Homo sapiens: one gene and its partners. The protein of the gene in region 1 interacts with the protein of each later gene in a biochemical or structural test. Each region holds a gene or a part of one and is shown on either strand. Other genes may lie near its edges. The genes, in order: NEIL1, XRCC1, LIG3 and HUS1.

Region 1 (8,199 bases):
ATAAAAAATTAGCCGATCATGGTGGTGCGTGCTTATAGTCTCAGCTACTCAGAAGGCTGAGGCAGGAGGATCAATCGCTTGAGCCCAGGGGTTTGAGGCTGCAGTGAGCTGTGATCATACCTCTGCACTCCAGCCTGGATAACAGAGCTGAGACCCTGTCTCAAAAAAAAAAAAAAAAAAAAAAAAAAAATGTATATATACACACATTGGAATATTTTTCAGCCCTTAAAAAGCAGAAGGTTCTGTCATTTGTGACTTGGATGAACCTAGACGACATGATGCTAAGTGAAATAAGCCAGGCACAGAGAGACAAATACCTCGTCACCTCACTTATGCCTGGAGTTGAAAAAAGGGCCTGGGGCAGTGGCTCACGCCTGTAATCCCAGCACTTTGGGAAGCCAAGGTGGGAGGATCACTTAAGCCCAGGAGTTCGAGACCAGGCTGGGCAACATGGCAAACCTGTCTCTACAAAAAGTAAAAAAATTAGCCGGGTGCAGTGGCACATGCCTGTGGTTCCAGCACTTGGGAGGTTGAGGTGGGAGGATTGCTTGAGCCAGGGCGGTCAAGGCTGCAGTGAACCATGATAGTGCCCCTGCACTCCAGCCTGGGTGACAGTGAGACCCTGTCTCAAAAAAAAAAAGTTAAATTCATAGAAGTCGACAGTAGAATGGTGGTTAGCAGAGGCTGGAGGAGAGAGAGGGTGGGTTGTGGGGAAAAGGGGAGACACCGGTCAAAAGGTACAAAGTTCCAGTTAGGAGGAGTACATTCTGGTGATTTATTGCCCAGCGTGGTGACCAGTTAATAATGATGTATACTTCAAAATAGCTAAAAGAGGGTTTTAAATGTTCTCATCACAAAGAAATAAATATTTGAGGTAATGGATATCCTAATTAGCCTGATTTGATCTTTTTTTGTGTTTTTTGTTTTCTTGAGACAGAGTCTCACTCTGTTGCCTAGGCTGGAGTGCAGTGGCGTGATCTTGGCTCACTGCAACCTCCGCCTCCCGAGTTCAAGTGATTCTCCTGCCTCAGCCTCTGTAGTAGCTGGGACTACAGGCATGCACCACCACCCCTGGCTAATTTTTTGTATTTTTTGTAGAGACTGGGTTTCACTATGTTGGCCAGGCTGGTTTTAAACTTCTGACCTCAGGTGATCCGTCTGCCTCGGCCTCCCACAGTGCTGGGATTACAGGCATGAGCCACCGTGCCCAGCCGATTTGATCATTCCACAATATATGCATGTAACAAAACATCACACTGTACTCCATAAATTTATACAATTATTATTTGTCAATTAAAAATAAAACTATAGATAAGTCAAACTGGTATTCTAAAAAATGCTCCACCAGCCACAGTTGGGCAAGAAGAAGCAAAAATGAAAACTGGGAATAAACAAAGTGATAAAAAAATCACAAGGAGACTATCCTTGGCAACATGGCAAAACCCCATCTCTACAAAAAAATACAAAAATTAGGTGTGGTGGTATGCACCATTGTCCCAGCTACTCAGGAGGCTGACGTTGGAGGATCACCTGAGCTCAGGAGTTCGAGGTTGCAGTGAACCATGATCATACCACTGCACTCCAGCCTTGAGTGACAGAGTGAGATCCTGTCTCAAAAAAAATAAAAAAGAGGTTATCCTGTCTTTTTAGTCAGGATAACCAAATAGCCCTGGTCAATGAGGTAAAGCTATACTTGACAGATGGATTCTATCAAATATATTAAGAATGACAATTAGAAAATCACTTTGAGGCTGGACACGGTGGCTCACGCCTGTAATCCCAATACTCTGGGAGGCCAAGGCAGGTGGATCGCTTGAGGTCAGGAGTTTGAGACTAGTCTTGGCAACGTGGTAAAACCCTGTCTCTACTAAAAATACAAAAAATTAGGCATGGTGGCCCCCACCTGTAATCCCAGCTACTGGGAGGTCGAGGCTGCAGTGAGCCGAGATTGCACCATCGTTCTCTAGCCTGGGCAACAGAGTGAGACCTGTCTCAAAAACAACAATAAAAACCTAAAACTTTATTTTCTTTTGAGACAGGATCTCAAAGCGAACTTTCGTATTTTTAGTAAAGACGGGGTTTCACCATGTTGGCCAGGCTGGTCTTGAACTCCTGGCCTCAAGTGATTCACTCCCCCCTCGGCCTCCCATAGTGTTGGGATTTCAGGCATCAGCCACTGCGCCTGGCCAAAAACCCAAAACTTTATATTCATTGAATAGCAACTACCCATTTCCTCCTTCCCGGCAGCTCCTGGCAACCACCATTCTACTTGCTGCTTCTGTGTGTTTAACTGTTTAGGTACCTGATATAAGTGGAACCATGAAGTATTTGTCTTTCTGGGGTTTTTTTGCTTGTTTGTTTTATGAGACAGAGTCTCGCTCTGTTGCCAGGCTGGAGTGCAGTGGCACGATCTCAGCTCACTGCAACCTCTGCCTCCTGGGTGCAAGCAATTCTCCTGCCTCAGCCTCCCAAGTAGCTGGGACTACAGGTGCCCGCCACCACACCTGGATAATTTTTGTATTTTTATTAGAGACGGGGTTTCACCATGTTGGCCAGGATGATCTCGATCTCCTGACCTCGTGATCCACCCGCCTTGGCCTCCCAAAGTGTCGGGATTATAAGCGTGAGCCACTGTGTCCAGCCTAAGTATTTGTCCTTCTGTGACCAACTTATTTAGTGCAATGTCTTCGAGGTTACCCATGTTGTTGCATGTGGCAGTATTTCCTTTTTTTAAAGGCTGAATAATATTCCATCATATACCACATTTTTTTTAGGGGGGCAGGGATGGGGATAAGGTTTCACTCTGTCATCCAGGCTAGAGTGCAGCAGCATGATCACAGTTCACTGTAGCCTCTGACTCCCAGGCTCAAGCAGTCCTCCAACCACAGCCTCTGGAGTAGCTGGGACTACAGATGCATACCACTATGCTAATTCTTTTCTTATATAGAGATGGAATCTCCCTATGTTGACCAGGCTGGTCTTGAACTCGTGGGCTCAAGCAGTCCTCCTGTCTTGGCCTCCCAAAGGGCTGAGATTACATGCATGAGCCACCATGCCCAGCCTATTATATATCACATTTTAAAAAATCCATGTATCGGTTGGTTGTTTCCACATCTTGGGAATAATGCTTCAATGTGTGTTATCTCTTCATTGGGGTGGCAGTTACATGACTATGTGTTTGTCAAATATTGCAGTCTGAAAGGGGTAAATTTTACTATATGTAAATTATACCTTTATTTAAACAAGAGAACAACAAAGAAATTACTCCATAGATTATTTGGTGTTCACAAGGTATGAACCATATGTTTTCTAATGCAGAGGTCTGGCTGCCACAGCCCCTGTCTTGATCAGTTTCAGCTCCCAATAAAGTGGGACAATGAGATATTGGGTGCCTCCTGATATGATGCAATTCAAAGTACAGAGCAGTGGCCAGGCGTAGTGGCTTATCCCTGTAATCCCAGCACTTTGGGAGGCCGAGGCAGGCAGATCACCTGAGGTCAGGAGTTTGAGACCAGCCTGGCCAACATGGTGAAACCCCGTCTCTACTAAAAATACAAAAATCAGCTGGGAGTGGTGGCATATGCCTGTAGTCTCAGCTACTCAGGAGGCTGAGGCAAGAGAATCACTTGAACCTGGGAGGCAGAGGTTGCAGTGAGCCAAGATCGTGCCACTGCACTCCAGTCTGGGTGACAGAGCAAGACTCCATCTCAAATAAAACAAAACAAAACAAAAAACAACGAAGTACAGAGCAGCACCTAGGAAGTATCCCTGAATATTTATATAATCAAGCCTTTAGATCTAATTCCCAGCATGCAGGATGAACCACAGATAGAGGACCAATCTCTGTGACAATATCAGTGACACCCTGAGGATACATTCAGACAAATTGAGAATGTGATGCAGCATCTATCTCAAACAACAACTGGCTGAGACTCTTCAGAAAGGTATCATGAAGATAAAAGAAGGGGATGAAGTGGGTGGGAGAGGGAAGGTGGTTTCATCTAGATTTAAAATTATTAAAAAGATATAATCCAGCCAGGCGCGGTGGCTCACGCCTGTAATCCCAACACTTTGGGACCCCGAGGTCGGGGGATGGCTTGAGCCCAGGAGTTTGAGGCTGGCCCAGGCAACATAGTGAGACCACATCCTTACAAAACATGAATTAGCCAGGCGTGGTGGTGTGTGCCTGTAGTCCCAGCTACTTGGGAGGCTGAGGCTGAGGATCACTTGAGCCCGGGAGGTCGGAGGCTGCAATGACCCATGATTGTAGCCTGGGGGACAGAGTGAGACCCTGTCTATATGTGTATATATATATATATTTGGGACAATTGGGGAAATCTGGATGTGGACTAGCTATTAGATGATATTAAGAAGTTACTGTTGGCTGGGCATGGTGGCTCACTTCTGTAATCCCAGCACTTTGGGAGGCCGAGGCGGGCAGATTACTTGAGGTCAGGAGTTCAAGACCAGCCTGGCCAACAAGGCGAAACCTCATCTCTACTAAAAATATGAAAATTAGCCAGGCATGTGGCACACGCCTGTAATCCCAGTTACTCGGGAGGCTGAGGCAGGAGAATCACTTGAACCCGGGAAGTGGAGGCTGCAGTGAGCCGAGATTTCACCACCGCACTCCAGCCTGGGTGACACAGTGAGACCCTGTCTCAAAAAAAGAAGTTACTGTTAACTAATTTCTAATAACTTAGATATTATTAGATATTGTCAACTAATATCAAGTTGTTAATTCTATTCATTTATTATGGCAGAAGTATTTTAAAGTAAATTAGACAAATCATGACATTTCATACCCAATACTTTAACATGCATCTCTAAAAACCAATTTCTTACAAAGCCACATAATTTTATTACGCCTAATAAGGAGACGTAGCAGGGTAGTGTGAAGGAGGGGAAATCGTGGCGATGGGTTAGGTATACACTTAGAATGAAGTGCAGACTCCACACGGAGGCCCTCCCGAGGCCCAACCGGACCTGACCTGGGTTTGCTTCTCTGTCTTCACCTGCCAGCACTAACCCGCAGCTATACTCCAGCCACACAGGACTTCTTTGAGTTCTTTCAGTGACCAATCTCTTTCTCGCCTCAGGGCCTTTGTACTGGCGGTTCCTTCCGCCGGACACGTCGGGTTTCCTCGTTTTTGCGGACTGGCGCTTTCTGATTTCAGAGACTCTCCGCAACAGAACCATCTCAAGTGGGTCTACCTCCTCGCCTTTTTTTGTTGTTGTTGTTGCTTGGCTGCGCTTCTGACAGGGCAGGCCGTGATGATGTTTGTTTATGAGTTAGGTCTGACTGTTCGTTGGTGCTTAAGATCCCCACCGGGTCCCTAGGGCCTGTGCGTACCGCGCACCTGTGCACGTCCTGCGCGCAGCTGCAGGCGACTCCGCTCTGGCTCGTCGCTGCTGTTTCCTGCTGGGGGTGCCGACCCTGTCCCACGCTAGCTGGGTGACTTCCCCCAACCGCAGAGACAGCGGCGACCCGGGGCCTCAGACCTGCCCCCGCATCTCGCCGGCGCCAGGCAGTGGGAAGTCAGGTTCTTCCGCCACCTCCCAGCCAGGTAACTGCCCCGAAGCCTGCCCCAAAGCCTGGAACCCCCCAAGCTCGGGGACCCCACCCCGAAGAATCGCGACCGCTTCCCTGAGGGACTACACCTCCCAGCGGCTCCCAGCGCGCTCCCGGGCACCGCCCGTTCTGGCGTTAACCCTTTAGTGGCTGCAGTGGCGACGAGCGGAACGGAGTGCGGGTTCCCGGGGAGGGGGCGTGCAGGATCGGGTTGTGGGGGGTGCGCTGTAGGGCTAAGGAGAAGATGAGCTTTGGGGGGCCCTGAGGAGGAGGGGAGTCAGGATTAACCGAGGACAGGGTCGCAGCGGGGGCATGGGGAGGACGGGCCCGAGAGCGCCGCTCCTCCCCAAAACTAGGATTTGGAGCCTCACGTTCTCCCGCAAAACGAGCCCTGTGGGTGCCAGGCCAGGGGCGGCTCCCAGGTGTGGAGGGGGCAAGGTACGGGCGTCTGCCGTCGCTAAGTGCCCCCTTCCACTTAAGGCACACCTTCGCCTCCGATTCCGAACCGCCCGGGGACAGAGGCAAGTGGCAAAGCAGGGAGGGCGGAGGTGAGGAGTCGATACCCCCCACCCCAGGGACCAGGCGCTGCCGCGGGCCCTTTCCCTCCCCCAGGCCCGGGGCAGGAGCTCGGGGAGCCCTTCCTGGTGCCCGCCGTCCTCCTGCGGAGCCATGGGGAGCGGCTCCAGCGCATGGCGGCAGCCCGCCCGCCTCGTCCTGGCCCCTGCCCTGACCCGGGGGCGGCCGCGGGGATGTCCGGTCCGTGGGGCAGGCCCGGTTCTCGCTGCGGCCAAGCGGCCGATTCGGCCGCTCCCGCCGCTCCCCCGCGCCAGGCCGAGCTTCGCTCTTTCCCTCGGTGGTGAGCGGCCAGATCCAGGCGGGTCCTAAGTGTGGGGGGAGGGGGGCGCAGGGAGGGGCGGCCACGCGATCCTAAGACCCTTTCAGATGGTGGGAGAGCCTGGAGAAAGAGACAGCGTGTGCGGAGGGGGTGCTCCCTCAGATGGGGGGTCAGGAAGTCTCCCTCAAGTGTCTGGGACAGAGGGACAGCAGGGGCCAAGGCGGAGATGAGATCCGTGAGTGAGGGGAGCCGGGAAGAAGTAAGGCTGCAGCCGCGGCCCCGCAAGGATTGGGACTTTCGTCTAAACGCGGTGGAAGCCCATGGAAGGAAGCGGTTAGCAGCAAGGCAGAGTCCTGCTCCCTCTGCAGCCCCAGCTCCCAGCGCCCTGGGCTTTCCAGGCACCTGTCCGGGTAGGGGATTGAGGGCCGTGGCCAGGCCCGCACTTTCCTGCCAGCCGCAGCTGGCCACATGCCCATCTGACCCTCCGAGTTCTCCTCTAAAAATGGGGCTGACAGCCGCTACCTCACAAAGTCCACACCGGGCTCAACCCGCTGCCTTCCTCCCCAACAGGACTCTGCCACCCTCCCTCAGGATGCCTGAGGGCCCCGAGCTGCACCTGGCCAGCCAGTTTGTGAATGAGGCCTGCAGGGCGCTGGTGTTCGGCGGCTGCGTGGAGAAGTCCTCTGTCAGCCGCAACCCTGAGGTGCCCTTTGAGAGCAGTGCCTACCGCATCTCAGCTTCAGCCCGCGGCAAGGAGCTGCGCCTGATACTGAGCCCTCTGCCTGGGGCCCAGCCCCAACAGGAGCCACTGGCCCTGGTCTTCCGCTTCGGCATGTCCGGCTCTTTTCAGCTGGTGCCCCGCGAGGAGCTGCCACGCCATGCCCACCTGCGCTTTTACACGGCCCCGCCTGGCCCCCGGCTCGCCCTATGTTTCGTGGACATCCGCCGGTTCGGCCGCTGGGACCTTGGGGGAAAGTGGCAGCCGGGCCGCGGGCCCTGTGTCTTGCAGGAGTACCAGCAGTTCAGGTAGGGCCAGCACCAGGTGTGATGAACATAGTCGCGGGCTCCACACCTGACTCTCTTAGTGCCTTCTTGGCCAACAAGGGGCGAGTCCCTGCCCCTTCTGGGCCTCAGTTCTCTCATCTGCAGATCAAGACAGTATACCTGTCCTGGGTCAGCTCCCTGAGCCAGTGGGCATGGAAACTCAAAACTAATTGGGGGCCGGGTGTGGTGGCTCAAGTCTGTAAATCCCAGCACTTTGGGAAGCCGAGGCGGGCAGATCACGAGGTCAGGAGTTCGAGACCAGCCTGGCCAGTATGGTGAAACCCTGTCTCTACTGAAAATACAAAAATTAGCCGGGCATGGTGGCACATGCCTGTAACCCCAGCTACTTGGGAGGCTGAGGCAGGAAAAGCGCTTGAGCCGGTGAGGCCGGGGTTGCAGTGAGCTGAGACAGCACCATTCCACTCCAGTCTGGGCAACAGAGCACGACTCTGTCTCAAAAAATAATGATAATAATAACTGATGGGGGAGGAGAGAGGAGAGCCAAGAGGAGGATGGGTAGGTACTGCCCTGAGGACATGTGGCCAGTTAGTGTCAGAGAAGCTGGGGCTCCCACCCACAATCCCACACCACCTCTCAGGGCTCCCAGGAGGCTAAGAAGGTGGAGGGGCTTTAATATGGTAAGTGAGGCTGAGCGGAATTGTTTCAAGGGGATGGGGAGGGGACTATCTCATGACATGGCTTCCGCCTTGGGCTTTGTGGTCTCCCACATCCGGCCTGCCCAGTATTC
Region 2 (7,526 bases), on another chromosome or scaffold:
GTCACCGATTAAGAGGAAGAGCTGGGGGCTTGAATCTAGATCTCAAGACTAAAACTGTCAGCAATCTGTATCTATCACAGTTTAAAAGACTGAGGTCAGGTGCAGTGGCTCATGCCTGTAATCCCAACATTTTGGGAGGCCAAGGTGGGTGGATCACTTAAATTAGCATTTGGTGCTCATTTGCCTTGAACTCCTGAGGTCAGGAGTTCAAGACCAGCCTAGCCAACATGGCAAAACTCGGTCTCTATTATAAATACAAAAATTAGCCAGGCATGTAAATTCCAACTACTCAGAAGGCTGAGGCATGAGAATCATTTGAACCTGGGAAGTGGAGGCCATTAGTTGACAGGCACTAAACACTGACATCAATTGGGGTGGACCAGATGATGTTACAGTAACAAAGGAGTCCCTAATCTCAGTGGTTTAAAACAACCAAGTTGTATTAACTTACACTGTAATAATGCTGTGTAACAAATCATCCTAAAACTGAGATCTTTTCTTTTTTTTTTTTTTTTTTTTTTTGAGATACAGTCTCACTCTGTCTCACAGGCCGGAGTGCAGTGAAACCATCACAGTTCACTGCAGCTTCAACCTTATGGGCTCAATCAATCCTCCCCGCTCAGCCTCCCTGGTAGCTGGGACTACAGGCATACGCCACCAAGCCCAGCTATTTTTTATAATTTTTCGTAGAGATAGGGTTTCCCCATGTTACCCAGGCTGGTCTCAAACTCCTGGGTTCAAGCGATTCACCCACCTCGACCTCCCAACATGAAAACTGAGACTTATACCAACAAGCATTCTTATAAGAATTTGTGGGATGGCTGCTTTGGCTGCAGTTTGGGAGGATTCAGGTCTCTTCCATGAGATTCCACAGTTTTCTGGGATTAGCAGTAACCTGGCAAATGTTCTCATGGCATATTATGGGAGCACAAAAGCCAAGTGCATTTAAGGCCCTTGCTGAAGTTAGATGTGCTGAAATTCCATTAAGTAAATCATATGGTCAAACTCATCAATGGAGCAGGGAAATATACTCCCCCTCCAGTGGGAGGGAGAGGAGTGGATATTTGCTGAATGACTGCCCATTCACAAAAGGTTAATTTTTCCGTCACCCTAGCACTATCCACAGAGTGTTCTGCTCCTTATAGTCATAAAGCAGCCCCCAGGCCAGGAACAATGGTTCATGCCTGTCATCCGAGCACTTTGGGAGGCTGAAGCAGGAGGAACGCTTGAGCCCAGGAGTTTGAGACCAGCCTGGCAACATGGTGGAAACCCCATCTCTAAAAAAATACAAAAAAAACTAGCCAGGCATGGTGGTGCACACCTGCAGTCCCAGCTACTCAGGAGGCTGAGGTGGGAGGATCGCTTGAGCCCAGGAGGTAGAGGCTGCAGTGAGCCAAGCCAAGATCATGCCACTGCACTACAGCCTGGGAACAGAGTGAGACTCTGTCTCAACAGATAAATAAAAGATTGACTGTCAGGCAAATTGTATAACTTCTTTGGGCCTCAGTTTCCTCATCTGTAAAAGTGGGGATAACAGAGCCTGCCTCTTGGGGTTTTTTATGAGGACTCAATGAGCTAATCCATGTGAGTGAGGTGTGTAGAGCAGCGACTGACAGGTAACGTTGAATAATGCCAGCTCTCATTATTATTATTTTATTTTTTATATTTTGGGGGTCTCACTCTGGTGCCCAGGCTGGAGTGCAGTGGCACAATCTCAGCTCACTGCAGCCTCCATCTCCTGGGCTCAAGCAATTCTCTCACCTCAGACTCGCCAGTAGCTGGGATTGCAGGTGCACACCACCATACTCAGCTAATCTATAAAATTTTGGTAGAGATGACATCTTACTGTATTGCCCAGGCTGGTCTCAAACTCCTGGGCTCATGCAATACTCCAGCTTCGGCCTCCCAAAGTGATGGGATTACAGGTGTGAACCACCATACCTGGCTATTATTCTTTAAAAAAAATTATTTATTTTAATAAAAATAGAGACAGGGTCTTGATATGTTGCCCAGGCTGGTCTGGAACTCCTGAGCTCAAGCAATCCTCCCATCTCAGGCTCTGAAAGTGCTGGGTTTACAGGCATGAGCCACGGCATCCGGCCAGTTTCCCCTTCTTTAAAGTGGAGTTGATTGGCTTAGACGACCTTCCTGGACACCTTCCAGCCCTGAGCCCACTGGCTGCAGGAGGCAGAGTACGTGGCAATGATTCATTTTGTTCCAGCTGAGGAAACTGGAACCCAGAAAGTAGATGCCACCTGCCCAGGACCACACACTGATTCCTGTGGTCATCCTGGACTTAATCCTTGGGTCTCCTTTCCTCTCTGCTGAGGGGCACAGGGATTATGCTGCCCATTTTCCGAGTAAGGAAGCTGAGGCCCAGCAAAGAAAGTGACTAAACCCACTGCCAGTTGGCTCAGGAGCAGAATCTGGAACCCCGGACTCCAGACTCCTAGTGAGGAGGAGGTGGGGTGGCAGGATCACCTGTAGGACCACAGAGATGGTCTTCTCGCCTGCCTTGGCTGCCCGCCATTTTCGGTAAGTGTCTGCCTTGAGAAGATTTTCTGCACAGTGAGTCTGGAAACAACAGTGGGAGAGGAGAATTAGGGCACAGAGATGACAGCTAGGCCTCCAGCTCTCAGATGATTCCTTTGAGTCCTCCCAAGGCCTCTACGACCCCCAGATTTAAGCTCTCCCGTTAATCCCCCGACACTCTGCCTGGAGTTTCCCCTACAACACTTTCCCGTGGAAGTTCACCTATGGGCTCTCCAAGAAAGCTTCCCTATTCCTCCTTTTCTCTCCGGAAGTTCCCTAGACGCCGGAACGTCCCTAATTCAACATCTCTCCACAATTCACTTTTAGCCTCCTGGAAATCCCCCCATGACTCTCCTTAGACTTCCAAGAGAACCCCAAAAGCTCTTTTAAGAGCTATCCTCATTAATTCCCTCACGTCTTCCAACCTCCCCCATGCAGGTCCCTCACCGAGTCCTGGCTGCTGCAGGACACGACATGGCGGAGGCGGATCTCCGGCATGTCAACGTCGTGGGCTTCGCCTGGCCAGAAGGATGAGGTAGAGTATGGGGTCCGAGGGGCAGGGAGAGTGGGAGGGGGCGGGGTGCGCCCTGCGCTGGCTAAAGTGCGCAAGCGCGCGAGGCTCGGGCCTTTCAAACCCCGGCGCGCCGGCGCCGGCGTCGACACTGCGCAAGCCCAGTCGCGCCTCTCCAGAGCGGGAAGAGCGCTGCGTTCCTTAGCAACGAGCGTTTCCTCCAGCCCCGCCTCCCTCCGCCACACACAACCCCGCTCTAGCCTCGCCTCCCAATGACGTCCGAACCCTGCTTTCTGGGAGCCTAGCAACAGAAGCGACCTCCGGGATTGGTGTCTGGAAGAAATTCGCCTTTCTCATTGCACGATGGAGTTACCGCCCACACTGAAGCCGAGAAAGCAAATCTTTTTGCTGTATTATTATTTATTTTATTTTTTAAAAATTTTTTGTTGAGACAGGGTCTTGCTCTCTCACCCAGGATGGAGTGCAGTGGCACGATCTCGGCTTTCTGCAACCCCTGTCTCCTGGGGCCAAGGGATCCTCCCACTTCAGCCTCCTAAGTAGCTGGGATTACACGCACGCGCCACCACATTCGGCTAATTTTTGTATTTTTTGTGGAGACATGGGGTGAGAGGGCGGCGGGTCTTGCCATGTTGCCCAGACTGGTCTCGAACTCCTCAGCTCAAGCGATCCACCTGCCTCGGCCTCTCAAAGTGCTGGAACTACAGGCGTGAGCGACTGCGCTGGGCTAGGACAGCAAATCTGAGTGAATTTTCGTAGTTTCGTAGGGAACCTGGATTCTACGCAACAGGATCTCTTCAAATGGCTCAGGCGGCTGCACTCTTCTCTCTGTCCCCTTGCCACACACACACACACGCACATATACATACATACGCGCGCGCGCACGCGCGAAAAAAATTAGCAGATCTCTTTCAGCCTTATGCCTGAGGCCAAAAGAGAAGGGTTCTGCGTCCTAAATATAACACAAAGCATGTGCCCAACCCCCACCACACACACACACACACACCCCTATCCTGGAGTTCTTCCACAAAAGCCTCAGTTTCCCAATATGTGGACTGTGGGCATCTGTCTTTTACTACGCCCGCCTATGACTGCCGACAGACATCCCTCTGTTCATTCGGTGCCTTGGAGACCCAAGGGTGCAGCCCTGGGTGGGGTCGCAGCTGGAGACAGCCCAAACACACAAGGAGTGTGAGCCGAGCACATGAAGAGAGGGGAAGGGAGACAAGGCACCCCGCACCCGCAGGACCAGCCTGGACATGCTGGGTGCTCCAAGGTGGGGCCCTACCCACACTGGGTGCTTCCTTGGGAGGAGAGGGGAAGAGAGAGAAGGAGAGGGAATCCCAGTTCTTGCAGCCACTGGGAATCAAGAGGCCCAACTCCGTCTTGGTCTTCAAGCAAACAAACAAACAACAATGGGCCGTGGGAAGGTGAGAAAACAGGGTGGTGACTTTCTGGGTTCTAATAGAAGAGGGGGATGGAAGCCCAGACTCCTGGGGTCTCCATGGAGGTGGGGGGCTGGGCACAAGATGCCCAGGTCACTTTTGGATTCTGGTTCTGCCTTCCCAACCCGGAGGCCACAGAGGACTGCCCTGGGTTCTGACCTCAGCTATTTCTCCCCGTAGGGTGAATGTGGGTCCAGACCCACCCCTCCTCAGCTTCCTATAAAAGCTGGGGACCAGGTACTGCTGATACACACACCATGAGGCTCTCCAGGAGACCAGAGACCTTTCTGCTGGCCTTTGTGTTGCTCTGCACCCTCCTGGGTCTTGGTAAGTGACAAGGGACCTGAACTGTCTCTGGGACCTCAGGAAGAGAGAGGTCCCAGATTGAGAGAGAGAGAGATATAGAGAGAGAAAGAGCCTTCAGCAAGTCCTCAAGGTGAACGGGGAGGCATTCTGGAAATTCAGATTCATGGAAGAGGCCAAGGGTAAAGGAAGAGAAAGCCTGGGGGTCCCAGAGAAGAAAAGCTCCTGTGATTGGATCCCTGAGAGAGGGGCTTGGTGGGCTCTGAATCCTCCATCCTCCAGGAAGGATCCCAAACACATCTCAATTCTAGGAAATCAGATGAGAGCATGGCTGGAAAGGGAAATCTTTAAAAATATAATTAAAAAAAAAAAAAGAGGGAGAAGGCCAGGTGCGGTGGCTCATGCCTGTAACCCCAGCACTTTAAGAGGCCGAGGCAGGTGGATCACTTGAGGTCAGGAGTTCAAGACCAGCCTGGCCAACATGGTGAAACCCCGTCTTTACTAAAAATACAAAAAAAGTTAGCTGAGCTTGGTGGTGGGCGCCTGTAATCCTAGCTACTTGGGAGGCTGAGGTGAGAGGATTGCTTGAAACTGGGAGGCAAAGGTTGCAGTGAGCCAAGATCGTGCCACTGCACTCCCCAGCCTGGGTGACAGAGCAAAACTCCATCTCAAAAAAAATACATTAATATCATATGATATATTTTTTTAAAAGAGGTAGAGAGATTTCCTTTCTCCTTAGACTAAGAAGTTCAGGCCCCAGCCCCCTCCTCCCCTGCACACAGGAGTCCAAGTAAGCCTCACTTTCCCCAGGACCCAGGTTTCTGGGCCCCTAGCTGTCCCCTCTCTCAGAACCAAGAAGTTCAAGTCCTCTGCCCTCCTGGTCCTCACTCTCCCTCCTTGACCTGGGATGCAGACCCTAGCCTCAGGGCCCCCTGCCTGAGCTCCTGCTGTCTACAAGACCTACATGGCACCTTCAAGGAGGAGAATCCCACATTCAAGAACCAGCTGGACCTGAAGTTTCACAAAAGTCCATGGAAACCTCCATCACGACCCCTCCCTGCCCCTGAGCTTTCTCAGCGGACCCTGGCATCCAAAATCCCCAGCCATGTAATTAGGCAAACAGGCTTCATGGTGGAGTCGCTTCCCGCCCCTGGAAGCAGCTTTGCTGGCATCACCACTGCTTCTTCGTCCAACTCTGGACAGTTCCTTGGGCAGTGGTCAACATCCCGCCCATGAAAAACCAGGGAGCTGCTGGTCCCTCCTCTCTCAGGACACAAAAGTCCTAAGTCAAAGTCGTGGTCCGAAGACCACACCACCCATGACTACAGCCTCGCCCTCTGTCTACACTGCAGGGTGCCCACTACACTGCGAAATATGTACGGCGGCGGGGAGCAGGTGCCATGGCCAAATGAAGACCTGCAGCAGTGACAAGGACACATGTGTGCTCCTGGTCGGGAAGGCTACTTCAAGTAAGAGGATGTGGCCTGGGACCTGGTGGGGAGGTGGGGTGTACCTTCAGGGTGGAAGAGACTACCATGCTGAGGGGGGATCATCATGGTTCTCAAGACGGGAGCGTGGGAAGAAATCAGTGGAGAGCAGGAAAGAGGGAAAGACCATCATGAGATGGAGGGAACAGAAATAAGTGGTGTGATAGAAATCATTATTGTCACAGAATTCTGAAAATGACACTGTCCTAAAGAGAAGGAAAATGTGGGAGGGGTGAGAGTTAATAGACTTTCTTAGGCAGAAGAGGGGTAAGGAAAGACACTGTGGGGGGCAGAGAAATAGTGAGAGGGGAAGAATCTAACTGGCAGGAGGTGGAAATGGTGGGGAGTGGATAGAGAAGGAAGAGGCTGGGCTGGGGTGGGAAAGTGTAAGTGTAATCAGGGAAGAGGTCATTCCTGACCGAGGGAGGAGAGATGATGGTGGAGTGTTGGAGTGGTGGAAGAGACAGAAAAGGGATCACCCCAAACAGGAGATGGATGATAACCTTGAAGTATGGAGCAAATCATTTTTTTTCTTTTTTGAGACAGAGTCTCGCTCTGTCACCCAGGATGGAGTGCAATGGCGCGATCTCTGCTCACTGCAACCTCCACTTCCCAGGTTCAAGCGATTCTCCTGCCTCAGCCTCCCGAGTAGCTGGAATTACAGGTGCGTGCCACCACACCTGGCTAATTTTTGTATTTTTTAGTAGAGACGGGGTTTCGCCATGTTGGCCAGGCTGGTCTCTAACTCCTGACCTCAAGTGATTCTCCCGCCTCGACCTCCCAAAGTGCTGGGATTACAGGCATGAGCTACCGTGCCTGGCTGAGCAAATCATCGTAAAGAGGAGAAGCAGAGACAGGGAGGGGGAGATGTGGATGAGTAAAATGAAAGGGAGGCCGGGCACGGTGGTTCACGCCTGTAATCCCAGCACTTTGGGAGGTTGAGGTGGGAGGATCGTTTGAGCCCAGGAGTTTGAGACCAGCCTGGACAACAAAAAGAGATCCATCTCTACAGAAAAAAAAAAAAAAAAATAGTTGCGCATGGTGGCACATGCCTGTAGTCCCAGCCACTTGGGAGGCTGAGGCAGGAGGATCACTTGAGCTTAGGAGATCGAGGCTGCAGCGAGCTAAGTGCACACCGCTGCACTCCAGCCTGGGCAACAGAGGGAAACCTGTCTCAGAAAATAAAATGGAAGAGAGAAGATGGGCATGAGTTAAATGAAAGAGACCACC
Region 3 (6,050 bases), on another chromosome or scaffold:
CTGTCTTCCCTCTCCCTCAGGCCATACTCTCCTTTACCATACTACTGGACTGGACTCAGGCTGGAGGCAGATAGACACAGTATAGGGGGAATGGGCTTGCTTCTCCCAAACCCACCAGTTCTCCACTGTCTCTTCTGGACCAGGAATTAGTTGCTGTGGGTGCCACAGCTGAAGTCAGTTTGTCTTGCTGGTTTAAATAGATCTTTCAGAGCTGGGTGCTGGGTTTGCCATCTTTTTGTTTTCTTTGAAAAGCAGCTTAGTTACCCTTTTTATAAATAAAATATCTTGCAGTTATCTTTGTCCTTTCCCCACCTACACCCCCAATAATTTCCCTAGAGATTAAGGAGTAAAGGCTGGGCTATGGCAGCTCTGTCCACAAAGCCTTCTCTCCCATCCTTGCCTGTTCCTTTGTACTTCCAGGCTCATTTTAAAGTTGTATTTAAAGGACTGCCCTCGGAAATGCTTCTGTTTAGCGGAACTTGTATTCAGCCTGACACGCTTTGCCAGGAACAAACCTCATGTGAAAGAAAACAAAATGAATTTTTTTACTTTCTTCTCTGTGTTCTCCTATTACATGGTGAGGATCCCCAGTTTGAAGGGAGGGGACTAGGGTCAGGTAGGAAAATGGGGCCTTTATGAAGAAAGGGGAGGTTATTTGGGCCACTCCTCTGGAGGGATAGAGGGCTCCAGGAAGATCTGCATCCCCAAAACCTGGAAACAAGACTGTTCTTTAAGAATAAAAATCCACATGGGGCTTGAGGCCAAGAACAGCCCTTGTTGCCACCAACATGGAGACTTTGTACCATATCCCATTCTTAGTGCTCGAGTGTTCCAACCTGAAGTTGAAGAAGCCACCCTGGCTGCACATGCCATCAGCCATGACTGTGTATGCTCTGGTGGTGGTGTCTTACTTCCTCATGACTGGAGGAATAATTATATGATATTGTTGAACCCCCAAGTATTGGCTGATGAACGTGGGCATCAGAGGCCAGTAGCTTTCTTGGCCTACAAAGTAAATGGACAGTATATTATGGAAGGATTTGCATCCAGCTTCCTGTTTACAATGGGAGGTTTAGGTTTCATAATGCTGGACCAGTCGAATGCACCAAATATCCCAAAACTCAATCGATTTTTTTTCTTCTATTCATTGGATTCGTCTGTGTCCTACTGAGTTTTTTCATGGCTGGAGTATTCATGTGAATGAAACTGCCGGGCTATCTGATGGGTTAGAGCGCCTTTAAGAAGAAATCAGTGGATACTGGATTTGCTCCTGTCAATGAAGTTCTAAAGGCTGTACCAATCCTCCAATATGAAATGTGGGAAAGAATGAAGAGCAGCAGTAAAAGAAATACCTAGCGAAAAAAACAGGAAGCATATTGAAGCTCGGACTAGAATTTCTTCTTGGTATCAGAGAGACAAGTTTATCACAGTATTTTTTTTTTTCCTGCTGACCTATTGATAATACCAACAATGTTGAGTGGCATTTTCTTCTTAGTTTTTAATTTCTTAAAGAAAATATACTCCATATCTGCAGGGAAAAAAATAAAAATCCACACCTGAGAACAGATCCATACAACCTGCTTACAAAGAACAGCTCCTGTGCTACCTGAGGCTGATTTATTTGAAGAACAAAAGGAAGAGAGACAATTTAGTGTAGACAAGTGCTATTCAATAGAACTTTTTGCAGCAGTGGAAATATCCATAAATCTGCAGTATCCAACCAAACTAGCCACAGACAGCTGCTGAGCAATTGAAATGAAGCTGGCACAACTAAGGAACTGAAGTTCTTATTTTAATTCAACTTCAAATGGTCACATGTCACTAGTGACTACCACACTGGACAGTGCAGGTGTAGACGGAGTTCAGATCAGACTCCTGAAACTTAATGGCTCTAACCTTAGGCAAGTTACGTTAACATCTAAGCCTCAATCCCTCCAAGTAGAATGGGTGCACCTAAATCATAGGGTTGTCCTGTTGTCCTGAGCAACATTATGTAAAGCACTTAGCCCAGAGCCTAGCACATAGTTATCTAGAGTTGGGAACGTCACTCCTGGTGTGCATGTCCAGACCCTACCCGGGAGAAGGGCCTAACCTATGACTTTAGAACCCTCAGTTGCAGGTGTGCATGTTCCAGCCAACACTCCACTCTGAGTGCAGGCTCATCAGGACACCATATGGTTGTAAACTGGCTGCCATGTCCCAATCCTTCCAGCTCTTGAGGGTCAGTTCTCACCTTATGAACAAATTAACAGGCTCTGGACCTATAAGATCAAGGACCACTGCGCCCCCTGGCCACCCCACCGCCCCCCCCCAACTTTGATCTGATTGACTTTGGCTTCCACCTACTGTTTAAAATGTGTATGTTGGGGGAGTAGGGACAGCACGGGGGAGGGGTTTACTTTCCTGACTCTAGCCCAGGACATTTGGTGTTTTTGAATAGGCACCATTCAGCCTTGCTTCAGTATTAGGAATAAGATACTTTTTATTCCATCCTCTATGGAGACAAAAAGCTGCTCCTCCTTTGAGTACTGACCTACATAGATTTCCATTTCTCTCTTCAGCCTCAGGCCAAACAAACAACCGGACAGGGCAGCAGAACAAGGCTGTCTCCTCAGGATCCTGCCAAAGGCACTGTCCTCTCCAACCTGGACCCAGCCCCACTTGCCCTTATTGGTTGCTTACACCCAGAGTGCACACTCACAGGAAAGGGCCTCTGCTGGCTGCAGGTGATCATCTTGTCCCTTCTCTGCCTTAGTGTGTGTTATTGCCATTTCAATGTCAGTGGTTTTTTATGTATTTTCTTCCAGTCTTTGCTGCTGAGATCTGACTGTATATACTATTTTGTATCCTTTCATGTATTTCTTTCATGTATTTCAATGCAGCCCTCAACATCATCATCATAAATCTCTCCAGCAGAATGCTGGAGGCCTCCCTCTTCTGAACCTCTACATGCTGCTGGCTGGCATCAAGCAGAGGTCATCACTGGGTGCTGAACAGGTCAGCTCCCTAGGGCAATGTGAGCAAAGTGTTGTGGCTCATCCTCGATCCTTTATGCCCTTTTGGCAAGATTCCTTTCTCTTCTCAGTCACAGCAGATGGACACATAATCTTGTTCTCCCAGGGGCTGCATTCTCAGTAGTCTTTTCCCTGCTCCTTGGGCGCCTGGTCAGGGAGGTTTGTACAAGCCTGCGCACACACAGCAGTCTGTCACGAGGCTGGGCCAACCTTTTTTTTTTTTTTAAACAGACTCTTGCTCTGTCATTCAGGCTGGAGTGCAGTGGTGCAATCTCAGCTCACTGCAACCTCTGCTTCCCGGGTTCACAAGCAATTCTCATGCCTCAGCCTCCCAAGTGGCTAAGACTTAACAAACAGGCACACACCATCACTCGCAGCTAAGTTTTTGTATTTTTAGTAGAGACCACGTTTCGCCATGTTGTCCAGACTGGTCTCAAACTCCTGGCCTCGAGTCATCCACGCACCTCAGCCTCCCAAAGTGCTGGGATTACAGGCGTGAGCCATGGCGCCCAGCCTGGGCCAACCTTTTCTGAGCCATAGTCCAGCTGTACTACAGCTGTATCCAAAAGGTACCATGTATCTCCCAGGGTAACCTGAAGACCTAACTGGGCATACTAACTGTCCTCAGATTTCAGTTCTTTAAGGCCCATCTCTTCTAGATCAGTGTAAATATCTGAACTCACTTGGTGCTTCAACCCAATTGGTCTTGGGATTCATCCTTTACCTACCCAGCTCTCATTCTCTTCTAGGTTGTTCCATGGCCTCTTCCATATATTACATTTGTGGTCTTGAGCAAGTTAGTTAGTTACAACAACACTGAGCATCTTGACCAAGGTCACTTGGCCCAACCACAGGCTAATCCCAGGCCATGTGCACATCCCAGGATTAGCTTGTGGTTTATCAGTTGTCAATTTTTTTTTTTTTTTAATACAGGGTCTCACTCTGTCACCCTGGCTGGAGTGCGGTGGCGATCAGAGCTCACTGCAGCTTCAATCTCCTGGCTCAAGTGATCCTCCCACCTCAGCCTTCCAAGTAGTTGGGACTACCCACATGCACCACCATGCACGGCTAATTTTTTGGTTTTTTTGGGTTTTTTGTTTGTGTTTTTTTTTGTTTTGTTTTTTGAGACAGAGTCTCGCTCTTTCGCCCAGGCCGGACTGCAGTGGCGCAATCTTGGCTCACTGCAAGCTCCGCCTCCCGGGTTCACACCATTCTCCTGCCTCAGCCTCCCGAGTAGCTGGGACTACAGGCACCCGCCACCACGCCTGGCTAATTTTTTGTATTTTTAGTAGAGACGGGGTTTCACCGTGTTAGCCAGGGTGGTCTCGATCTCCTGACCTCGTGATCTGCCCGCCTCAGCCTCCCAAAGTGCTGGGATTACAGGCGTGAGCCACCGCACCCGGCCCTTGTTTGTTTTTTTAAGTAGAGACAAGGTCTCACTACATTGCCCAGGTTGGTCTCAAACTCCTGAGCTCAAGCAGTCTTCCCACCTTGGCCTCCTAAAGTGTGGAAATTATAGCATGAACCACTGTCAGGCTCTTTTGTCAGTCCTATCAACCTCTAACATCCTCGCACCAGACAGGACAGGTGTCTGTATTGAAACTTTATTACAAAATTATAAAGCAGAGCTCTGTAACAAAATAATACACATTTGGGTTTGCTTTAACCTCCAAGTAAGTCTGAGAAAATCTTAATAAAAGCCACTTGAAGTAACAATTCACATCCAAGAGATTTCCACAAATTTATACAATGTATATTGAGCACTAGTTCCTGTACAGCTTATTCTTATTAGTTTGGATCCAACTATTCCAATGTATTATGAACCAGTCAGCTATCTGTCTTTTGAAACAAGTCTTAACTGAAATCTCAGAGTAATCAGCAAAAGCTACGGAATAATTCTAAGAATTAGATGTTTCCATATCATTAAAACCAAGGATCCATGAGGGGCAGAAGGGAGGATTCAAAGATTTAAAAAAAATCAAATTTTAGACCTTGGTTAAATATTAACTGGAATGGGATCTTGGAACTCCCAACTTTAATTTGGTGTAATAAAAATGATGCAAAAAAAAAAAAAATCAGGGTTGTTTGACACCTTTTTTCCTAAAGGGAAACCTTCACCAAAAGGGGATAAAAGATTTAAAGGCAAAATGAGTAAACAACCTCAGTTTTAATTCTTACTGAGGTTACTAACCAGCTATCAGTATATTATTTTCGATTTGTGTCTAGGAGGGAAACTGAAGAGGAGGTAAGGCTTCAGCAGAGAAAGCAGGTTGTAAGTAGAGAGCCAGCTTCTGCCCTTAAGTTACTGCTAGATCTTAGCTGAATTGCACATACATAGACCTGTTTTACAGAGGAACTGAGTAGCTGAATGAATGATCCTTTGCTAATTGGTAGGCATTGTAAACTATAGTATTTACTGCCCATGACAAAAGTGGAAAGGGATGTCTTCATGAGCAAATCTGATTCCCCCAACTCCTGCAAAGGCTGTGGTTCAGAATCAAATCATCCAGGACTTTGTATAACATTGAGGTAAGTGGCCCAGTGTTCAGTTGACTAGTTTATGCAGTTATTTCATTCCTCCAAAGGGGTTTAGTGGTTGGTGATGGAAGAAAGCATAAATATGTCTGTACCAATGTAATAAGTCCCTTTAGAGGTTTCCCTCTGCCATCCAGAGTCATGATTGGTTCTAGTCTCAGATTTTTCAGCTGCATGGGAGGGGTAAGGGGTGGGAGGTGTCTGCCAAGGCGTTTAGGGTTTGCATAGTTCATCCATTGGTAATGGGAAAACACTCTGCTTTCCTGATCATGTGTTTTGTGCTTGGCCACGCTTCTGCAGCAAACTCTTAAGTCCTCCAGCTCCTCTAGGGGTGTAAAGACTGTGAGGGCTCAAATACATCACCTACTCATTGCATGGTCCTTCCTAAAGAGCCTAGAAAATGGTTTCTCCTGCTGGGTGTGGTGGCTCACGCCTGTAATCCCAGCACTTTGGGAAGCTGAGGCGGGCGGATCATAAGGTCAAGAGTTCAAGACCAGCCTG
Region 4 (7,146 bases), on another chromosome or scaffold:
TAGTTTTCTAATTTAATGACTCTAGAATTCTCTATTCTTTGTAACCACAAAATATTAAAACATGCATCCTCACCACATCCCCAGGACTTTCTGAGATCTGTCCCTCTTTTTCCTTCATTTAAAGTTTCATTCCCTTTTTTTTGCCCAAGGTGCCCATTCTGCTTAGTTGAGGCTCTTACTTCCCGTGGTTCCTTCTCAGTGCAGGACTCTCTCCTGCTGTGAGGGAGTTCTCATCAGCTCCACCCAGCCCTCCCTAGAGCCCTGCCCTTGTGCTGCTGTAGTCTCCTGGCAAGTCCTCTCGGAGTTCCACCTGTTTTCACATCTTCACTGAGTTCTTCATTCCGGGAGGCAGGCAGGGGGACTTCCCCTTTGAGATTTTTGGGAGATTTCTGAGTTCTTGGCTCTTGGGCCTTATCTTCTCACTTTCCCTGATAGCACGGGGGTCTCAGTGTGCTCTGAGGTGTTTTGAGGTTTTGTAGGGTACTTTGTCATCTGGTTGTGTGAAAGCTGTTGCCCATGGAGTTTTTTTCCTTTTGGCTTCCTTTTCTAAGACTATGTAAAATACTCAATTTGCAGGTTATTGAAGCAAACCTAGATGGAGAATTGAATTTGAAAATAGAAACTGAATTAGTATGTGTTACAACTCATTTTAAAGATCTTGGAAATCCTCCATTAGGTAAGTTTTCTAGTGGGTTATATTTTGCTTTGGATAAGTTAATTGTTTCAGATAACCTACCTGTTGAGGTCTCTTCATGTAAAAAGGTTGAAATTCAGTTGACTTTGTTTCATGCTTGGGTGAAGAACAAAGGAATTGAGACTGGACTATGTATCCCTGTGGTGTAGTGGGGCAGTTAGCCACCAGGGGGAGAAGCTGTGCCACCAAGTAGCTGACAGATCTGTGCAGGGTCTCCATCCTCTGTAGAATTCGGATCAAGTTACATAACCTCCAAGATCCCTTCCAGCTATTCAATTCCTGTCCTACTCCTAAAGATTTCTATTTCTCACCTGGCATGGATTCAGAAAGGTAGATACATTTGTTCTTATATTCTCCTCCTTCAGTTACTTCCATATGTATGAAATTAGTGTAGCAGATGCAAAACTGTTTCACTTGATCACATTTCTTATCTCATACAAGGTAATAAGGGACGATAGAGTCAGTTCAGCAAGTGGGGAGAGAGGGGACGGTTGGACAGTTTGGTGAGTTATAAGCCAAGAGGGGGTTAGAATCATGGCTGGAAAGTGGCAGCTGCACAGTAGCAGGGGCTGCCTGAGCAGGAAAGCAGGTAAAGGACCAGGGGAGAAACACCTGGGGATGATGAGAAAATCATTTTATGATACATAAGTGTGCCAGAACCAATAAAATCGGCCCTAGTCACATTTAAGTTACTACGAGTCTGCTTGAATATAAACACAGATTTTAGCATAGAGTTGGAAGGAATTTTTACTTTCTAGTTAAGAGCATCCTGCTCCAGCAGAGTGAAATCCATACGGTTATGCCTTTGATAATATTGTGTAAAGCGATTCATTCTGATGTCACTCATTTTGTTTCTTTTAATAAACATAAGGTGGGACTTATCTTTGGTACTTTCTCAGAGGTAGAAAGGATGTTTTCTTTTTTTTTTTAATTCCACTCCAGAATGACAGGCCTTGTATTAGTTAATGTATATATTTTCACTCTTAAAATACATAGTAAGTACAAATAAATAAAATTTTCTTTGACCTGAAGAGGGAGATTGAGTTATATTTCAAGTCCCCTGTAAATAAAGATGCCTTGGAAATTATCATAGTATTTTAAATAGTTAGGACCTAATGCTTAATGAATGACAACATTTACAAGTTGCAATATTTCTTCAGGATGCTAAAATCAGTGCTAAAGTGAATCATTTATTTAAGTAAAATGCATTGAGTATCTCCAGGTTTCCTGTTACGTGGGAAGATGTTGTATTTAAATGCATTCCTATCATTTTAGCCTCTGAAAGCACCCATGAGGACAGAAACGTGGAACACATGGCTGAAGTGCACATAGATATTAGGAAGCTCCTACAGTTTCTTGCTGGACAACAAGTAAATCCCACAAAGGCCTTATGCAGTGAGTGTGCTTCTCTGTTTTGTTTTTCATATTCTTTCATATTCTAAATACTGCAGTCAACTCTAGTCTAACAGATTGCATATAGTCTCATAAATCCAAAAAAAAAAAAAAAAGCTCAATTATGTGGACTTTAACTTCCTAGAACAGTGGGGTTTTTTAAATTTTCCTAGATTCAGAAGTACCTAAGGTGGCAGCAGAGAAACAACCCCTGGGCACTCTGTTAGGGCCTGAAACCTGCAGCCACACTGGTTGGTAGGTGGGTTGTGTGCTGCCTCAGTTGGCCAGCACACCTGGAGATGCCATCGGGAGAATGGGTGCAGATCATCCCACCTTCTCCATGGTCATCTAATTTGACCTGCTCAGAGTGCCAGACACGGTTTGGCTTGGATTTAAGTTTTCCCTTGTGATGTCTTGTTTCCTTTCTGTGGCTATGCTGGCCTGCATTCGCTGCCCCATATCTGTCCCTTGGCTGCTGGTTGTTAACAGTTGCCTCTTGATTCTGGCTGGGCCCCATCTTGTGAGGTCACACACCTGCTCCAGCACTCTTCATCTACTGACCACACATGAGAAAGGCATTACCTGCCAAGAGCTTTTCAAGGCATTTTTGTCACCTTACTACTGAAATCACAGCAACCTAAAAGCGACTGCATCCTGGATTTGAAGTTCCACGTTTTGTAGCATAGCTCCCAGGCTGAGCTGAGAGGGAGGTTGAGCCAACACTGCACCTCATCCCCTTCAGATCTGCAGTGTGCTGTAGAGAAGGAACAGAAGATTCTAGGTGGCAATGTCAAGGACCAGCCCTTTTGAATGAGAGACATGAAGAGAATCAGAAGAGACCATGGGAGGGGCAATGGGTGTTTGGGAATTGGGGAAGGTGTCACACAGTTGGAGTGATGGGCACAGAAGGAGATATCGCCAGAGAAGCAGCTCTGAGGGTAGAGATGGAGAAGCTAGACTAGGCCAGATCATGGGGAGTTTTGGGGTGAGGTACCTGTGCTGCATTTTAAGGAACTTTGACATGGACGATGTCATATTTCTAGGGCTGAGCATAGTGGGAGCTGTGTGGCAGTGCAGGGTCCTTAAAGGTGCTTCTGAGAACCTCGATGTGCATGGAGATCGCCTGAAGGTCATGTAAAGGGACTCCTTATTCATAGTTTGGGCTGGGCCTCATGGCTGCACTTCTCCCAAGCTCCTGTACAATGCCCAGACCCTTGGTCCTGACAAGCACAGTGTGAATGGTGAGAGAGTGAAATACCCCTCCTGTCTGCAGAGTGTGGAAACACAGGGTGTGGGGGGCCCCTGCGCTGCACAACATCAGTCTTTGAACTTGGTATTTTGGGGACTTTCTGAATCCAAGGCTGTTGAGGAACATGGAAGAGTTCTTATCAAAGGTGGTTGACTAAGCCAAGTGTCTTCCCAACATTCACTTTGGTGTCTCCACGTGTAGCAGAGAAAGGAAGACCAGCAAATTGTGATGTAGCAAAAATTTTTTTTAAAACACCGTGGGTTGAACTTCTCATACCTTCTTAACTTCCCAAAGCCCCTTTTCTGTCTCTGTTAGTCTCCTTCAGGTGTCGGCTCAATTGTCCCCTCCTCTAGCTAGGTCCTGCCACCCTCAGTCTCTGCCTCTCCTGTGCCCTTGCACCACCTCTCCTAAAGAATGTTTGTCTCCTGCTTGTCCTTTCTGGTCCTTTCCCCAACCTCCCATCTCCTGGGATTGGCCTCTCTGCAGCCTGCTCACACATGGTTTCTTGTCACTCACTCATATCTGCTGGAGAGCTTTCCTCGGCTGCTGTGCTGCAGCTCCCCGAGCTCTCGGTGGTTGTCACACTGTGTGCTCCTGCCCACCCTCATGTGCTCTTTACTTCCCTGCTTGGTTGCATGCCTGATGCCTTGGATTTTAGCCATCACCCATGGCCCTCACGGGATTGGCAGGACCGTTGAGATGCAGGGATCCATCCCATGTAGCAGTGTGTGACACAGCCTGCCCCAGGTGTTGGGGGATCCTGGCTCTTGGCTCTTCTCAGCACAGTTCCTCCACTCACTGGTGAGGAGCTGCTCTTCGCTGCAGAAGGATGCTCATGTGGGTGAATGTGGTTTGCCAGGAAGCCAGCCTGCTGGGTGTTTTGCCAAGGGCTTGGGCCGCTTCACTTTTCCTCTCCTCGCACAGGGAGCCGCCAGTGCTGGGGCCGTGATGTAGCCTCAGCTGTGGCAGTGAGAGTGAGAGACTGTGGTCTCTGCAGCTGCCTCAGGGAAGACAGATGCCTAAAACAGGAGGTGCAGGCTGGGAAGGCTGTTCTGAAAAAGTAGAGATCAAAATGTGTGTGCTGCACTAGGTCTCTAAAATCATGGCTTTTCTCTTCCCAGATATTGTGAATAACAAGATGGTGCATTTTGATCTGCTTCATGAAGACGTGTCCCTTCAGTATTTCATCCCTGCGCTGTCCTAGCACCCTGTCGCTGGAGTTGGCATGCAGAGACTTTGTCAGGATGGGAGAGGCCGCAGGTGTTGTGTTCTGATCACTGGTCTGTGCCCTCACAGCACCGCACATCGACACACTGTACTTATTTGTCCCTCTCTAACATTTTAACTAAAAGTTGATTCAACAACACACAGTTGGATAAACATATCACTTCATGTTGCTCATGTCTGTTTTGCTTTGTTTTTAAGACACTGAAAAGAAAAGCTAGAATTTATTTATTCAGACTTTAAAGAACAATTTCTCATTGATGTTGTGAAAATCGTCATGTATTTAGACTTGGTGTAGTAGCCAGAATTCGTAAAGCTGTTGCCTGGGAGCTTGGTACTTTCCCTCCAGGCAGAGGCTCTAGCTCAGCACGGCCTGTAGCGCACAGTCAGTCTTGCATTTCAGTGTGTTCACCCCGCTGCTCCTGCCCCTTGGAGCCCAGTGACAGAAAGAACAGCCTCTGTCACCCCGCCGCCACTGCCTTGGTTACTCAGAGCACTGTGGGGTGTCACAGCTGCAGCATTTGGAGTCTCTCTCTTGCTGAGGACTCAAGCCCACCTGAGTCCACTCCCCTCTTGATGCCTAGAGAGCTGGCCCAGCCAACACAGCTCTTAGCTGGGAGCTCCTTCTGCCATTCCAACTAGTTTCTTCCTGGGGCCAGTTTTGGGTTTAGGTTGTAATTCCTTATATTTCTTTCTTCCACAGTGTATCGGATCTGTCGTTCTGGAAAGAAGACCCTTCTATTTAGAGTAGAAACAAACGAAACTTCTAAGGTATCATCTGTGTTAAGTGATGAGACCATATTTCTTTGATGTTTCTGAACATCAAAGCTGATTCAGTACTGGTAGATGTGCTCATTCTCCCTGAAACATACCCATCATATTTCCTATTATAATTACATCTCATTGTCCTGTGGAGGTGGACATGATAAACATTATCTTTTGTTTTCTTGTTTTGTTTTGTTTGAGACGGTCTCATTCTGTCACCCAGACTGGAGTGCAGTGCCACAATCATGGCTCACCGCATTGACCTCCTTGGCTCAAGGCATCCTCCCACCTCAGCTTCCTGACTAGCTGGGACTACTGGTGTGCACCACCACACCCAGCTAATTTTCAATTTTTCATAGAGACAGGGTCTCACTGTGTTGTCCAGGCTGGTCTTGAACTCCTGGGCTCAAGCCACCCGCCCACCTGGGCCTCCCAAAGTGCTGGGATTACAGGCATCAGCCATCACACCCATCCATAAACATTATATTAATGTCACATTACAAAACTGAGACCTAAGTTGCTTAGGATAAAATGAAATTGGAAGACTAGCTAACATGAAAATTTATATTTTGGCTTTTTCATGTTTTTTGATAAAACCAGTGTATTTGAATGATTCTTTTGATGTTTAGTAATGGTTTTTTGTTTGTTTTTTGGTTTTTTTTTTTGAGACGGAGTCTCACTCTGTCGCCAGTCTGGAGTGCTAGTGGCGCGATCTTGGCTTACTGCAGCCTCCACTTCCCAAGTTCAAGCGATTCTCCTGCCTCAGCCTCCCGAGTAGCTGGGACTACAGGCGCATGCCACCACGCCCGGCTAATTTTTGTATTTTTAGTAGAGACGGAGTTTCACTGTGTTGGCCAGGATGGTCTCGATCTCGACCTCGTGATCACCCACCTTGGCCTCTCAAAGTGCTGGGATTACAGGCGTGAGCCACCACGCCTGGCCTATGTTTAATAATGTTGAAATAGGATGGAATATTTTGTTAAATTAACATTTTAAAATTAGAAGACACCGTTTTAATTTTTAAACCCTTCCTCCTCTCATTGTAACGAAATTAATTCCAGCTGCAGTGAGAAAACTTAAAAATCATGATACAAAATGAAACAATATCTGAAAGTAGTTTTATAAAACTGAAATTGCTGTTAAAGAGAATGTGTTAGTGACTTAACCATTTGCTCTATGTGATGTTTATTATCAAATACATATAATTTTGAAGATTTTAATGAATGGCTTAAGATTTTATCTTTGTGTAGAATGTGGCTAAAGAAACCTTAGTTGAGATTCAAGAAGTTGGTGTCTGTTTCTGATTCTTATCACAACTTGCTACTTAGTGTCTACCAAGTCCTCCACCTCTTTGCTCCTCAAAGAGCTGTGAAAAATGATGGCAGGAGCCGGTACAACACCACAGACTTAGAGAAGGGCACAGTGCTGCTTTATTGAATGATCTACCAAGGTAAAATTTTGCCGGGTCAAGAAATAGCAATTTAATCCATTTAAAGGAATGAATATAATTTGAAACATTAACTTATTTCAAGACTAACATCTCAAAGTGTTGAGACCTTTTTTAAAAGAGCTTTCTGGATTTTGAGCATACTTTCACTGGCTGTGATTTATAAGAATTTGTGGTTTGTGGAGTACTGTCCTAAATGCCAGGGTAAAATAAGGCAGTCCCATGCCTTACCTGCCCTGGGCTCAGGGCCTCACATCCTTTTGGTACGCACATCTTTTCTCTTCTCCCTTGTTCTGCTCTCCCGCAGCATATACCTCCTAGCCCCAGGCAATTACTTGTCTAATATCTATCTCTATATATTTGCCTATTCTGGCT

The links.
Region 2: the proteins of NEIL1 (region 1) and XRCC1 form a complex in vitro, tested with the Homo sapiens proteins (one study listed by BioGRID).
Region 3: the proteins of NEIL1 (region 1) and LIG3 form a complex in vitro, tested with the Homo sapiens proteins (one study listed by BioGRID).
Region 4: the proteins of NEIL1 (region 1) and HUS1 form a complex in vitro, tested with the Homo sapiens proteins (one study listed by BioGRID).

Annotation. Positions count from the first base shown.
Region 1 is NC_000015.10:75,341,907-75,350,105, forward strand, and holds the start of NEIL1 (endonuclease 8-like 1), read left to right. Parts: upstream 1-5,132; 5' UTR 5,133-5,567; intron 5,568-5,712; exon of another isoform or gene 5,713-5,884; coding exon of another isoform or gene 5,885-6,120; intron 6,121-6,514; exon of another isoform or gene 6,515-6,740; intron 6,741-6,977; coding exon of another isoform or gene 6,978-6,999; coding exon 7,000-7,433; intron 7,434-8,199. UniProt on the Homo sapiens protein: Involved in base excision repair of DNA damaged by oxidation or by mutagenic agents. Acts as a DNA glycosylase that recognizes and removes damaged bases.
Region 2 is NC_000019.10:43,572,429-43,579,954, forward strand, and holds the start of XRCC1 (DNA repair protein XRCC1), read right to left. Parts: upstream 3,100-7,526; 5' UTR 3,031-3,099; coding exon 2,980-3,030; intron 2,575-2,979; coding exon 2,482-2,574; intron 1-2,481. Other genes in the region: PINLYP (phospholipase A2 inhibitor and Ly6/PLAUR domain-containing protein), read left to right, coding at 4,692-4,833, 6,162-6,278. UniProt on the Homo sapiens protein: Scaffold protein involved in DNA single-strand break repair by mediating the assembly of DNA break repair protein complexes. Negatively regulates ADP-ribosyltransferase activity of PARP1 during base-excision repair in order to prevent excessive PARP1 activity.
Region 3 is NC_000017.11:35,004,512-35,010,561, forward strand, and holds the end of LIG3 (DNA ligase 3 isoform alpha precursor), read left to right. Parts: 3' UTR 1-2,561; coding exon of another isoform or gene 2,562-2,903; 3' UTR 2,904-5,232; downstream 5,233-6,050. UniProt on the Homo sapiens protein: Isoform 3 functions as a heterodimer with DNA-repair protein XRCC1 in the nucleus and can correct defective DNA strand-break repair and sister chromatid exchange following treatment with ionizing radiation and alkylating agents.
Region 4 is NC_000007.14:47,962,749-47,969,894, reverse strand, and holds the end of HUS1 (checkpoint protein HUS1), read left to right. Parts: intron 1-576; coding exon 577-676; intron 677-1,969; coding exon 1,970-2,089; intron 2,090-4,456; coding exon 4,457-4,539; 3' UTR 4,540-6,607; downstream 6,608-7,146. UniProt on the Homo sapiens protein: Component of the 9-1-1 cell-cycle checkpoint response complex that plays a major role in DNA repair. The 9-1-1 complex is recruited to DNA lesion upon damage by the RAD17-replication factor C (RFC) clamp loader complex.